2 linked regions of the Homo sapiens genome follow. The protein of the gene in region 2 interacts with the protein of the main gene of each other region in a pairwise test. Each region holds a gene or a part of one and is shown on either strand. Other genes may lie near its edges.

Region 1 (7,028 bases), on a different chromosome or scaffold from region 2:
ATAATATGAGAGGATCTTGATTTTCTACAACTAAGTAAAAGATAACATGCTGCTCCATTTTCTTAAATGATGAAGGGATGGCTTTCCTAACATGGAACACTTAACAGATGACTACCATTATACCTAAATATAAAAGATGGTAAGAACTGATTTCCAGAAGGACTTCAAAGGATTGGTTCGGTGAAGGAAACAGAGTATATCATGATAACATACTATACAATTCAAGGAAGATATCTGACTTCCTTTCTTAGCAGCTCTGCTGCATGTTGGTTCCTAGTGTTGCCATTATTAACTGACAATCATAGAATGGCTTCTGCTTGCTTCACAACTGAAACTAGGAGGGCGGAGGGGAGGAGGTGGCAAGAGGGGTAAAGGCAGTAGCAGTAATGATGGACCGGTTAATAAGAGACTCTGAGTGTGATGTAAATAGTATGTTTATTAAACAATAGAGCCCATTGGAATTTTTTTCTTCCACGTATTGTTAGATGTAAAACCTGATACACTACCATACAGACAGGTGATTGACTAGACCTTGTTTATGTAGTTCTAATGTGGAATACTTAGAGTTGTTATGAATTACGATTATCCATAACTTTTGAATCTAAAAAGCTGGCTACACAACGTATTTTGTTGGAATCTTTTTGTAATACCAAATGTCTACACTCTTTGATCTAGAGAATCACAAAATTTTAGAAACATCACTACCCAGGTTAATTGACTTTTTTATTGTTTACTGTCCAAATACCTGTTACATATTAATAGTATTCTACTTTATATACCTGTAATAAACTATTCAGGGTTTCTTAAGCTGGTTGTTGAAATGTTTTGTAATACTGCTCTTCTTACCTTGTTATAGGAACTTTTATAATAAACCTGAAAAAGTGAAACATATCTTTCCCAAATAAATAGCAGATTATATAAATGAGCCAGCTTCATGGATCATGTATTGAAATAATTAGTTGTAACCTATAAAGTTTGTAAGCATTCTTACAATAGAGGCAATCTTAAGATTACTATTATTAGGACTTAAGAGATTTGAGAAGTTGGGAGCTAACAAATTAAGACCCTAATGGTATATGTCCTTAACCTGTAACAGGAGTTTATTTTGTCAAGCTATTTTTCCCATCCTATTCATTACTACTAAAAAATATTGCTTAAAAACATTTTCTTCCTTCGTGAGGCTTCTTAGAATGTTAAATTTACCTTCTAAAAATTATACACTAAGTTATTTTACAGGAAAACAGCTTCTTAGGATTAATGTAATATATATATGCAAAGGTCAAATGAAATATTTTTGTGGATGGTAAGAAAAATTTCAACTTACATTTTTGCAACTTCTTTAACGATATCACGGCAGGTCATTTCTTTCATCTATAGAAAATAAAATGTATACTGTTCATCAGAAGAACATTTTCCACTTGTGTAATAACTATTTTCACTTTTATACTCAGATATAAAACCAAGGAAAATAACCTAAAGTCTGAAAAAGACCAGAATCGAAGTTTCCTGATTCATATTTTAATGTTTTGAAATTTATACTCCAGGCTGGGTGCAGTGGCTTGTGCCTGTAATCCCAGCACTTTGGGAGGCCGAGGCGGCCGGATTGCCTGAAGTCAGAAGTTCGAGACCAGCCTGACCAACATGGTGAAACCCTGTCTCTACTTAAAAATACAAAAGAGCTGGGCATGGAGGTGGTGCGCGCCTGTAACCCTAGCTACTCGGGAGGCTGAGGCCTAAGAATCTCTTGAACCCAGGAGGCAGAGGTTGTAGTGAGCCGGGATCACGCCACTGCACTCTAGCCTGGGCGACAGAGAGAGAGACTGTCTAAAAAAGGAAAAGAAAAAAATTTATACGCCAAAAAAGATATTCTGAGATAACCTGTAGTTACCACTAACTTTGTGACAAAATTATAAAAATCCACAGCCATCTATGAATCTGTAGGCAGACCTGAAGTTTGAACGACTGGTGAAGACATCTGATTTTCTTTATAGCCAAGTTAGGATAACAAAATGCAAACAAGTCATTAATATTTACTATATGCAAGATACAGAAAGATGAAGGAAGGAGTAAGAAGTTATCCTTCGTGGAACTATTCAAAGCAAAAATGCAAAATACCAGGGAAAGCTTTGAAGAACCAAGATTTGAGCAGGTTCTTAGAATATAGATTGGATTGGATTTGATTTCAAGAAAGATGAACGTGTAAAGCAGAAGTGGGAAGCCAAAAACTTTTTTCCAAATTAGAATTAAGCATTCTTTCAATGAACATTTGGAAATCAAGGTAGAAAAATATCCCTAGGGCCTAGCTGAGGAGTCTGTATGTTGTTGGGTTTTGATAGTAACCAGTCCAAGATTTTGTTATTAGACGTGGGTTTCTGAATAGACAGGCATTTCTGAACAGACATGACAGGATCAAAACAATGTTTGAGCAAACTGCCCTTCATCTACTGTGGATATGTTGGGGGATGATGGAATATAGTGAAAGATAATGGGTGCTCATACAGCAGTCTAGACTTAAGGTGATTCAACTACTATATATTAAACTAGATTATCTTTTATTTTTTAATTTTGAAATCTGGATGCTCAAGCTCTGCCTGCACAACCACATGAGGAAGAAGGAACAATGACAACAAAAATAACACTAAATTTAAATTTAAGAGTACTACTTTTAGGAAATAGACAAACCATTATTTGGGTACAACTAAAGGCAACTGGCATGGACTCAAATATTTTGGGGAAGAAAAAGACTAAAAGTTCTAAGGAAGAAAATGCGAACCTTGATAGTTTGAAATAGTTAAAAAGACAGTGTAGAAACTGCTTAGGCAGTTTGATTATGGACTATTAGATGATACTTGGGTCTGATAATGGTATAAGGAGAATAAAGTATTTAGGGATCCAATATTACGCCTGCAGCTTTTTCCAAATAGTTCATGGGGGAGGGGGATGTGTAAGTGGTTAACTGAAGTCTAACTAGATAGGTTTGTTGTAAGCTTAGGATGTTTACAGTTCTTCATGTTAAGTTGAGCGTGATGGGAAGGGAAAGAATGCTGATCTTTAAATTTTTGTCCTTAGTTAAGTTCTGTATTTAGTGAATTAATTGCATCCTAAAAAGTCAAACTTGAAAAGCACATTTTAAATGGCAAATCTATTTTTTACATGTTTGTGAAGTTTTTATTTTTTAGTAAACAGACCATCAGAAGAGAACAATGGTACAGAGCAGGGGTCAGCAGATGGATTTTGTAAAGCATCAACTTGTAAATATTTTCAAGTTTATTAGCTGTATGGCTCTGGTTTCTGTTCCCTGTTCCAAATGTTAAAGTCTACTGTTGTATTCTAAAAGCAGCCATGGACTGAATGTAGCTGTGTTCCAATAAAACTTACACAAAAGCAGGCAGTGGGCCATAATTTGCAACACCTGATTCACAGCATAATTTTGTCACAAACTGAAAGTGTTCCTCAATTAAAGTGATTTTTTTTTCTTGATTTTTCTCTGGGATTTATTGTTTTTCCCATTCCTTGCTAGGATTTAACTACAGAAAGACAGATAGTAACTGCTCTAAATATTCTAATTTCCTTTATTTTTTTGAGATAAGGTGTCGCTCTGTTGCCCTGGCTGGAGTGCAGTGGCGTGATCATAGCTCACTGTAGCCCCCAACTCCTGGCTGGGGCTCAAACAGTCCTCCTGCCTCAGCCTCCCAAGTAGCTGGGACTACAGGCACGCACCACCTCACCTCGCTAACATTTTGTTTTGGGAGATAGGGTCTTACTCTTTTGCCCAGCCTGGTCTTGGAACTACTGGGCTCAAGCAGTCCTCCCAACTTGGCCTACCAAACTGGTAGGATTACAGGGGTAATCCCCCTCAACTGACATAAATATTCTAATTTTCAAATTTCCATATAATAGTATGGAGAGATGAAAACAAAAGGAAAAGAGTAGAAGATAGGAACCTAGCATCATACTAGTAAGTGTGCAATGGAAAAGAACATAGGTCTAAGACTCATAAGGTCTGGATACTGTTCAGAACCAGCTGATTCTGTGGTCCTATGCAGTGTGTTTAATCTGCAGTTGAGCTTGGGCTAAATGACCTCTAAGATCCTTTTGTCAGCTTTACTAAAATACGAAACAAATTAGGTTTTATAGGGGGTTCTAGAACTTAGCATTGTATAAATGCCAAGCACTAATAAGTATTTTCTAGAAGCTGGTCTTAAATAAGTTGAATGAGTAATTAGTTGAGCAGGGTTCTAGTACAGCATTAACATTAAATGTATGTGAAATTGTATCTCACTTCAGTTTACCAAAACACTGATAAATGGTATGCCTGCTTTTTAGGCAAGTTTCTGACAGGTAATCAATAATATTGAAACAGTATCCATGAAGTCTTTAAGTTGATCAACGCATGGCTAAAAGGAAAACCAAGTTTTTAAGAAAACTTTTTCACACTAATAGCTGAATTTTGTGAAAGAAAAAGTGGGTAGTCGTAAGAGTGTAGGCTTTATGCCTTACCTGGCTAGGAGCAAAGCTAAGAGAACCGGTGGAGCACAGCCAGACATAAAAGCTGTGTTCCAAAGAAAGAATATAGGAAAAATATAACTTTTTATTAACTCAAAATTTTAAACAAAATTTTCAAACTAGAGCTCACAGAGATTCATAAATAGGTTTCAAGGATTTTGTGAAATCATATCAAAAGTTGTGTTTTTCTAGATTGAGGCTTTATAGCAGTTATTCAGAATCTATAAAGGGATGTATAACACAACTCTACAGATAATATGTTACCAGCTTTCCCATTCAGTGACTTAGCAGCTTCATAAACTCTCAACATCAAACCACACTATATCCTTACACCGAGCTTCCCCAGCCACAGGCCACATGGGGCCAAACACAAATTCGTAAACTTTCTTAACACATGATGAGATTTTTTTTTAAGCTCATCAGCTATCATTAGTGTTGGTGTATTTTATGTGTGGCCCAGGGAAGCCAAATGATTGGACATCCCTGCCTTAGACTGAAATGTCTGTGGTGATAAAATTTCACTGCATTAGGATGACGACATAGTAAAAATTCAAGCATTAATTATTACCTGAAGCTTCTCTATTTCCGTCTTTGCAGCTTGCCTGGCTTTGCCGATGGCACAGCCCCAATAACCCTATTTAGAAAAAAATATATATAATCACTGAATTAGTACACTATCATATGTAATTAATGACTACTAATGTTTCTATAACCTAGTGAAAGGATGCTAAATGACTTTTAAAAGCAAGTATAGAAAAATATAGTCAAACACATTCTGATGAATGCCAAAGGGCTCAAAAATACTAAAATACCAAACAATTCCAAAACAACCTGTATTTTTAATAAAGGTATATCCAAAAATATGTAAATTATGTAATCATATACACTTTAAGACATTTTGGGGAACAGGAACGGAAAAGATTTTAGCACTATGACAATGAAAAATGAAATTATATATTCCTGAGAGACAGAAATAAAGTTAATTCCTATGAGTTCAGTACTCTAAACCCCCAATTTTATTATTTTGTAAATTTTTTTAAAGATAAGGATGCACAGCTGGGTGTGGTGGGTCATGCCTGTAATCCCAGCACTATGGAAGGCCAAGGTGGGCAGATCACCTCAGGTCAGGAGTTGGAGACCGGCCTGGCCAACATTGTAAAACCCTGTCTCTACTAAAAATACAAAAAAATTAGCTAGGTGTGGTGGCAGGTGCCTGTAATGCCAGCTACTCCAGAGGCTGAGGCAGGAGAATCGCTTGAATCTGGGAGGCAGAGGTTGCAGTGAGCTGAGACCGCGCCACTGCACTCCAGCCTGGGCAACAGAGTGAGACTCCATCAAAAAAAAAAAAAAAAAGGATGTACACATATATACTTCTGTTACAGCAAAATATATTTAAGAATCTTCATTTTCTTCAATTAGTAAAAACGACAAAAATGTAAGGATAAGAAAACAGTTAAGAAACGGTAACAGGCCGGGTGCAGTGGCTCACACAAAGTGCTTGTAATCCCAGCACTTTGGGAATCTGAGGCACGTGGATCACTTGAGGCCAGGAGTTCCAGACCAGCCTGGGCAACATGGTGAAAGTCTGTCTCTACTAAAAATACAAAAATTAGCCAGGTGTGATGGTACAGGCCTGTAATCCCAGCTACTTGAGAGGCTGAGGCACAAGAATCCCTTGAATCCGGGAGGCAGAGGTTACAGTGAGCCAAGATTGCACCACTGCAGTCCAGCCTGGGCAACTGAGCAAGACTCTGTCTCAAAAAAAAAAAAAAATGGTAATAATTTAGGGAAAGCTCTTAGAAATCACATTTAAACCTTCTCTTTAAAAGGGAAGGCAGGGCAAGGTGGCTCACACCTATAATCCCAGCATTTTGGGAGACCAAGGTGGGCGGATTACTTGAGATCAGGAGTTCGAGACCAGCCTGGCTAACATGGTGAAACCTCGTCTCTACTGAAAATACAAAAATTAGCCGGGTGTGGTGATGCATGCTTCTAATCCCAGCCTACTCGGGAGGCTGAGGCAGAATTGCTTGAACTGGGGAGGTGGAGGTTTGGCGCCACTGCACTCCAGTCTGGGTGACAGAGCGAGACGCTGTCTGAAACAAAATTAGGTCCGGCACTGTGGCTCACGCCTGTAATCCTTGCACTTTGGCAGGCCGGGGTGGGCAGACCACCTGAGGTCAGGAGTTGGAGACCAGCTGGCCAACATGGCAAAACCCCATCTGTACTAAAAATACAAAAATTAACCAGGCATGGTAGTACATGCCTGTAATCCCAGCTAATCAGGAGGCTGAGACAGGAGAATTGCTTGAACCTAGGAGGCGGAAGAGGTTGCAGTGAACCAAGATCGAGCCACTGCACTCCAGCCTGGGAGACAGAGTGACACTCCATCTTATAAATAAATAAAATAAAAGGGATGACATGGCTGGACATCGATGCTCACGCCTGTAGTCCCAGCATTTTGGGAGTCCAAGGCAGGAGGACTGCTTAAGGCCAGGAGTTTGAGACCAGCCCTGGGAACG
Region 2 (6,764 bases):
AGCATTAATAATAATTAGTGAGTGAATAATTTCATGAATAATCAAATACCTTTTGTAACAAATGGTACTTCGAATACTTGAATTTTCTTCTCTTTCCTTCTTTTTTTTTTTGAGACAGAGTCTCACTCTGTGACCCAGGCTGGAGTGCAGTGGCTCTATCTTGGCTCAATGCAACCTCCACCTCCTGGGCTCCAGCAATCCTCCCACTTCAGCTTCCTGAGTAGCTGGGACCTCAGGCACACACCAGCACGCCTGGCTAATTTTTTTGTATTTTTGTAGAGACGGGGTTTTGCCATATTGCCCAGGCTGGTCTTCAAACTCCTGGGCTCAAGCAATTCACTCGCCTTGGCCTCCCAAAGAGCTGGGATTATAGGTGTGAGCCACCACGCCCAGCCCTGGAATTTTCATGTAAGTTGATGTAACATTAAAGTCTATAAAGATTGAAGTCTATAAAGCTCTTCATTGTATATTGTCATTAGTATATTAATTTTTACATATTTTCACCATACATGCATTTTGAAAACAGGATTTTATTTGTTTAACAATCAAAATAATATCTTTTACACATTTCTAAGATTAGTATTCAGAAATTTTACATTTAAATTAATTTTAACATTTTAAAAAAGTTTTTTTTTTTTTTTTGAGACGGAGTCTCACTCTGTCACCTAGGCTGGAGTGCAGTGGTGCCATCTTGGCTCACCGCAATCTCTGCCTCCTGGGTTCAAGCAATTCTCCTGCCTCAGCCTCCAGAGTAGCTGGGATTACAAGCACATGCCACTGCACTTGGCTAATTTTTGTATTTTTAGTAGAGATGGGGTTTCTCCATGTTGGCCAGGCTGGTCTTGAACTCCTGACCTCAAGTGATCCACCTGCCTCGGCCTCCCAAAGTGCTGGGATTACAGGTGTGAGCCACCACGCCCAGCCATAAATACATTTTTTAAAAGTAATTTCTGCTTGTCAAAGTCAAATGATTTAAAATTTGGCTTAATTTAATGTCTGTTTTCTGTTGCTATAAAGGTGAATATGCAGTTTGATATTATAAATAGAAAGAGCTTTTGTGTGTGTGTCCTATAAACATTCCTCCCTTAAATCCTCTTGTGGAAAAACATCTAGCTATGTAAGTCAGTGGCACTATACCCTAGAAAAATGGTGAAGGGAAAGTCCTTAGGAGAATGGGACATTTCTGAACTCTTAGACTTTCTGTTTAGTGGCTCACTTTGAAAAGTGAAAGGGAGGGAATCACGTACTCCTTTCCCAACAACTAGTTTTCCATAGGTATATATACATACACAGAGTGAGAGAATTTCAATAGGTATATATATCTACTATATATGTCAGGTATACACACACAAACACACACACACACAAACATACATATACATATCCCTGAATTTACATACAATGTATAGTTATCATAAATCAGGGACTTTTAAGATAAATATAAGATTTAAATCTCTTTGCTGACTTTTCTTTAGTAACATGTGGGAAAAAACCTCTATTTCAAGATGTGAAATTGGAGACTGCTTTTCCATTTCTTCAGCTCCTAATAAGCACTAAGAAGCAATTTGCATCAATTCACCACCTACTCCTTGGCATCCCCAATTCCTCCAGCAGTTATTGCGAAGGTGGCTTCATTTTCAGGCATCTCAGGACTAACAGAATACAAGGGAACAGAAGTTTATAAAAAGCTCTATTTCTATAAATACTATATTCATGTCACAGGCATTATGTGCCCATCAGTCTGAATCTCCAGAGACATCTCAGAGTTGGTACAACCAAATGTGGCCTACAGAACTTACCCACAAGTATTATTAACCCTCACAAACATTTATTGAGCAACTTCTATATATAAAGTTCTGAATGTCAAGAAAAATTACTCCAAACTTGGAAACAGGTGAAAGGATAACTGGATGTTCTTTCATTTATTTATTTTAATTTTTTTTTTTTGGCGAAGTCTTGCTCTTGTCCCCCAGGCAATGGTGAGATCTCGTCTCACTGCAACCTCTGCCTCCTGGGTTCAAGCCATTCTCCTGCCTCAGCCTCCTGAGTAGCTGGGATTACAGGTGCCTGCCACCACGCCCGGCTAATTTTTGTATTTTTAGTAGAGACGGGGTTTCACCATGTTGGCCAGGCTGGTCTTGAACTCCTGACCTCAGGTGATCCGCCTGCCTCGGCCTCCCAAAGTACTGGGATTACAGGCGTGAGCCACTGCGCCTGGCCAACTGGATGTTCTTTTAGTATAGTGTCAGGCATTGTATAGCAGCCCCTTAGAGGTTTATCTGATTCTATAGGGGTATGCACCTTTCTTATGACTAGACTAATGTAGGAGCAAACTGTAAAATACTTTGAAATAAATTAAAAGATTACTGAGTACCTTCCATGGAAACATAGGTTGTCTAGCACATCCTCCCAGGTTATCCAATTCTTTTTTGTTTTTTGTTTTTGTTTTTTTTTTTTGAGACGGAGTCTCACTCTGTCGCCCGGGCTGGAGTGCAGTGGCGCGATCTCGGCTAGTCTCAAACTTCTGGCCTCAGGTGATCCGCCCACCTCGGCCTCCCAAAAGTGCTAGGATTACAGGTGTGAGCCACTGTGCCGGGCCAAAATCTGTAATTCTTAATTAAACACGTAAAGTGCTGAGAAAGAATATAGGGTATAATATACTGAGTAGCCTAGACTGTAAGGGTTAGGGAAAGGTTCCCTGAGAAAGTGATGTTTAAACTGAAACCTGAAAAACAAATAGAGTTAACCTGGCAAAAAGAAAGGAGGATATGTTCCCATACTTGATACTTACCTTGTATTTAACACAATTTAATTGGAATTGATGATTTCATTATCTAGGTGTATGCTTTGAAAGGTCAGGGACCAAGTCTATGTGTCAATAGAATCCCTCAATCCCTAGTACCTAGTAACAGTAGGGACTTCCCAATAAATTGAATAATTTTTTAGAAAGAAATTCAAACACACAGCATCTGGCAGTAATAATTACAGCCTTGTGGTGGCTCACACCTATAGTCCCAGCACTTTGGGAGCCCAAGGTGGGAGGATTGCTTGAGCCTAGGAGTTTGAGACCAGCTCGGGCAACATGGCAAAACCCCGTCTCTACACACACACACACACACACACACACACACACACACACACACACACACACAAAATAAAAAAAAATTTACCTGTCATAAATCTTGGCAATTCTGAGCTCTCCTCTTCCCTTTCGCAAGCTTATTCTTGTTGTTGAAGCATGAGCCAGAATGTGTCCCCCAATGGGTTTTTTGGGATCTGCCTGAAAGCTGAATTAATAAAATACTCTTTCAGGTTTCATCATATGGACTATATATGGCAATATCTGCAATTACAAGGCAATCTTTCTGTGGTGGATGTCAGGAGTTGGAATAAGTGTATATTCTAAACAAGCAGAGGCTTGTTCATAAACTAAGGAGTGAGGTGAGTTTTGGAGCTGCTATATACCCCATCTAGTCTAGGCTTTTGAGATTCCTATGATAAATAGTTTATATTTTGTTTGACTTTTTTTTTTTGAGATGGAGTCTAGCTGTGTCGCCCAGGCTGGAGTGCAGTGGTGTGATCTCACTCACTGCAACCTCTGCCTCCTGGGTTCAAGCGATTCTCCTGTCTCAGCCTCCCAGGTAGCTGGGATTACAGGTGCCCACCACCACGCCCAGCTAATTTTTTGTATTTTTAGTAGAGATGAGGTTTCACTGTGTTGGCCAGGCTGGTCTCGAACTCCTGACCTCATGATCTGCCCGCCTGGGCCTCCCAAAGTGCTGGGGTTACAAGCACGAGCCACTGTGCCCAGCCTGACTTTAAAAAATGAGATTACTGGCTGGGCTCGGTGGCTCGTGCCTGTAATCCCAGCACTTTGGGAGGTCGAGGTGGGTGGATCACTGAGGTCAGAAGTTCGAGACTAGCCTGGCCAACATGGCAAAAACCCATCTCTACTAAAAATACAAAAATTAGCCAGGTGTGGTGGCGTGTGCCTGATGCTTGTAATCCCAGCTACTCTGGAGGCTGAGGCAAGAGAATTGTTTGAACCCAAGAGGTGGAGGCTGCAGTTAGCTGAGATCAGCCACTGCATTCCAGCCTGGGCAACAGAATAAGACTCCTTCTCAAAAAACAAACAAACAAAAACAGAAAGAAAAAAAGAAAATGTGGGCTTAGAAATCATCAATAAGGGAACAGCACAAACTAAAGGTTATACTTGATCAAAATAAACTATGATATAGAATAATAGCTTCAGTTCTGAAAGAATATAGTTACAAGTCAATTCAAGTTGTGCTTGCTCCATTAAAGTGTTCATGATTCTGGTTTTACTCTAAGCTTCAGGCTTGGTATAGCAAGGATGTAGCTGATTGGCATGAGGTTAAATATATTTAGACTGTAGGTTGGTCGGGATAAGAAGCTCTTTGGTAAAGGAGTTTGCTGAGATAAACTGCTACTTGATTAAATGGCTCAGAGGTTAGGACCAGAAGACCCCTGGTTGGTGCTGAATAGGATTAAGATTCAGTAGAAACTGGACACTATGGCACATATCTGTAGTCCCAGCTACTTGAGAGGCTGAAGCAGGAGGACCACTTGAGCCCAGGAATTCAGAGGCTAGCCTGGGCACCATAGTGAGGCCCTCTTAAAAACATTTTTAAAAAAATGTTTTAAATGCAAATGCAGCAGGTCCAACATAGGAACAAGGACAAAGAGTTAGTTTTGGAGTGAACCACTATCAAGAAAGTAGTAGCCAGACAGTTGAGACTAACGGCGGCAGTTAAGAAGTCAGAAAGCTGGGTTGCTTTGCCAGGCACCTGACATGGTAGTAAAGCAATAAAGCCTTCTCAGTTGGATAAAATAGCTAGATAAGTGAGTTGTCTCTATAATGCTTACAGATCGATGCCACTTAACTTTTCAGGTCACCCTACCTTACAGGTGGTTCTTCATGGTTTTAAAATAATCTTATGTTCTATATAGATGGGCTGCTTGAGACCCTGAGGATATTCTCAACTGAGCTATGAACTCCGAGCCTGCAAACACTGTATTTATGCTTCTGTAATGTACTTTTCATGTTCTGCCTTTAGTACTATTATTTATTTACTTATTGTATTCCTTCTCAATTCCTCTCTTATTCTCTATCACTAAGCTCCTTAAGGGCAGACTATATTGTGTTTAGTTCTGCACAACCAGGCACACAGTGGGTGTTCAAAATTGTTTTTTCAGCTACGTGGGAGGCTGAGGCAGGAGAATCGCTTGAACTCGGAAGGCGGAGGCTGCAGTGAGCTGAGATTGCGCCACTGTACTCTAGCCTGGGTGACAGAGTGGGACTCTGTCTCAGAAAAAAAAAAATAGTTTTTTCAGCTTAAGATATTTATGCTACAACAATTCCAAGGGGAATATTGGACTGCAAAAAGATTGGTGTTTTCACAGAAGTTAAGAAAAAATAAAATTGAGACCAGTTGGAAATTTCTATCAAAAGGAGCTAAGAACGGATAGTCAAGGTTAGCTAAATGGGCAGAGAGAAGTCTGAACACAATGCTACTGCTTCTCCCAGCTAGTCTCTCAATGCTGCTCATTCTCCTGTGTGAGCATGGTTGGCTTTACTGCCTCACCTTCAGTAGTCTCCTTAAGCCCCCTTTTCCATTCTTATCCCCTCACCTTGGATGACATTGCCTGCTACTTTATAAAGAAAATAAGGGCTTGGCCGGGCACAGTGGCTCATGCCTGTAATCCCAGCACTTTGGGAGGCTGAGGCAGGCAGATTGCAAGGTCAGGAGTTTGAGACCAGCCTGGCCAATATGGTGAAACCTTGTCTCTACTAAAAATACAAAAATTAGCTGGGTGTGGTGGCGTGCACCTGCAGTCCCAGCTACTCAGGAAGCTGAGGCAGAAGAATCACTTGAACCCAGGAGGCAGAGGTTGCAGTGAGCTGATCGCGCCACCGGTGGCCCTCCAGCCCAGGCGACAGAGCGAGATTCCGTCTCAAAAAAATAAAATAAAACAAAATAAAATAAAATAAAACTAATAAATAAAAAAGAAAATAAGGGCTCTCAGGAGGACACTTCCTCAACTTCTTCTTTCTGTCCACCACCTATATACTTAACTACAGTTGTACTCATGTTTTCTCCTTCCCTCTAAAACTTCCTTTTTTCTGATTTCAGAAAGTCTTCTTATCCTTGATGACTTTGCACACATTACTCCCTCTGAAATGAAAGCTCCTTTCCCCACCGTGTCTGCTCATTCAGCTCCTACACAGCCTTCAAGTGTCCTCCCTTCTAGGAACCCTTGCCTGGTTCCCTGAAACAGTAGAAAACTGGCCCCCTCTGTGCTTTCCAACAGTCTGTATTCTTTTATTAAAGCACACTACAGGTGGGCGCAGTAGCACTTTGGGAGGCCGAGGCGGGCGGATCACCTGAGGTCAGGGGTTCAAGATCAGCCTGACCAACATGGAGAAACCCCGTCTCTACTAAAAATACAAAATTAGCCGGGTGTGGTGGCACATGCCCGTAATCCCAGCTACTCAGGAGGCGGAGGCAGGAGAATCGCTTGAACCTGGGAGGCAGAGGTTGTGGTGAGCTGAGATCGCACCATTGCACTCCAGCCTGGGCAACAAGAGCCAGACTACGTCTCAAAATAAATAAATAAATTAATTAATTAATTAAGCACACTACATGGTAATTTTAAATGTATGGGTCTTATTCCCCAACTATACTCTAAATATCTGTTCATCTTTGAAACTCCAGCGCCTGGAAAAGTGCCTATAATATACA

Evidence for each region.
Region 1: the proteins of DMC1 (region 2) and PSMA3 interact in binary tests that used the Homo sapiens proteins (3 or more experiments, as listed by UniProt).

Annotation. Positions count from the first base shown.
Region 1 is NC_000014.9:58,261,817-58,268,844, reverse strand, and holds part of PSMA3 (proteasome subunit alpha type-3), read right to left. Parts: intron 5,141-7,028; coding exon 5,075-5,140; intron 3,481-5,074; exon of another isoform or gene 1,452-3,480; intron 1,372-1,451; coding exon 1,325-1,371; intron 1-1,324. UniProt on the Homo sapiens protein: Component of the 20S core proteasome complex involved in the proteolytic degradation of most intracellular proteins. This complex plays numerous essential roles within the cell by associating with different regulatory particles.
Region 2 is NC_000022.11:38,518,438-38,525,201, forward strand, and holds the end of DMC1 (meiotic recombination protein DMC1/LIM15 homolog), read right to left. Parts: intron 3,288-6,764; coding exon 3,171-3,287; intron 1,653-3,170; coding exon 1,583-1,652; 3' UTR 511-1,582; downstream 1-510. UniProt on the Homo sapiens protein: Participates in meiotic recombination, specifically in homologous strand assimilation, which is required for the resolution of meiotic double-strand breaks.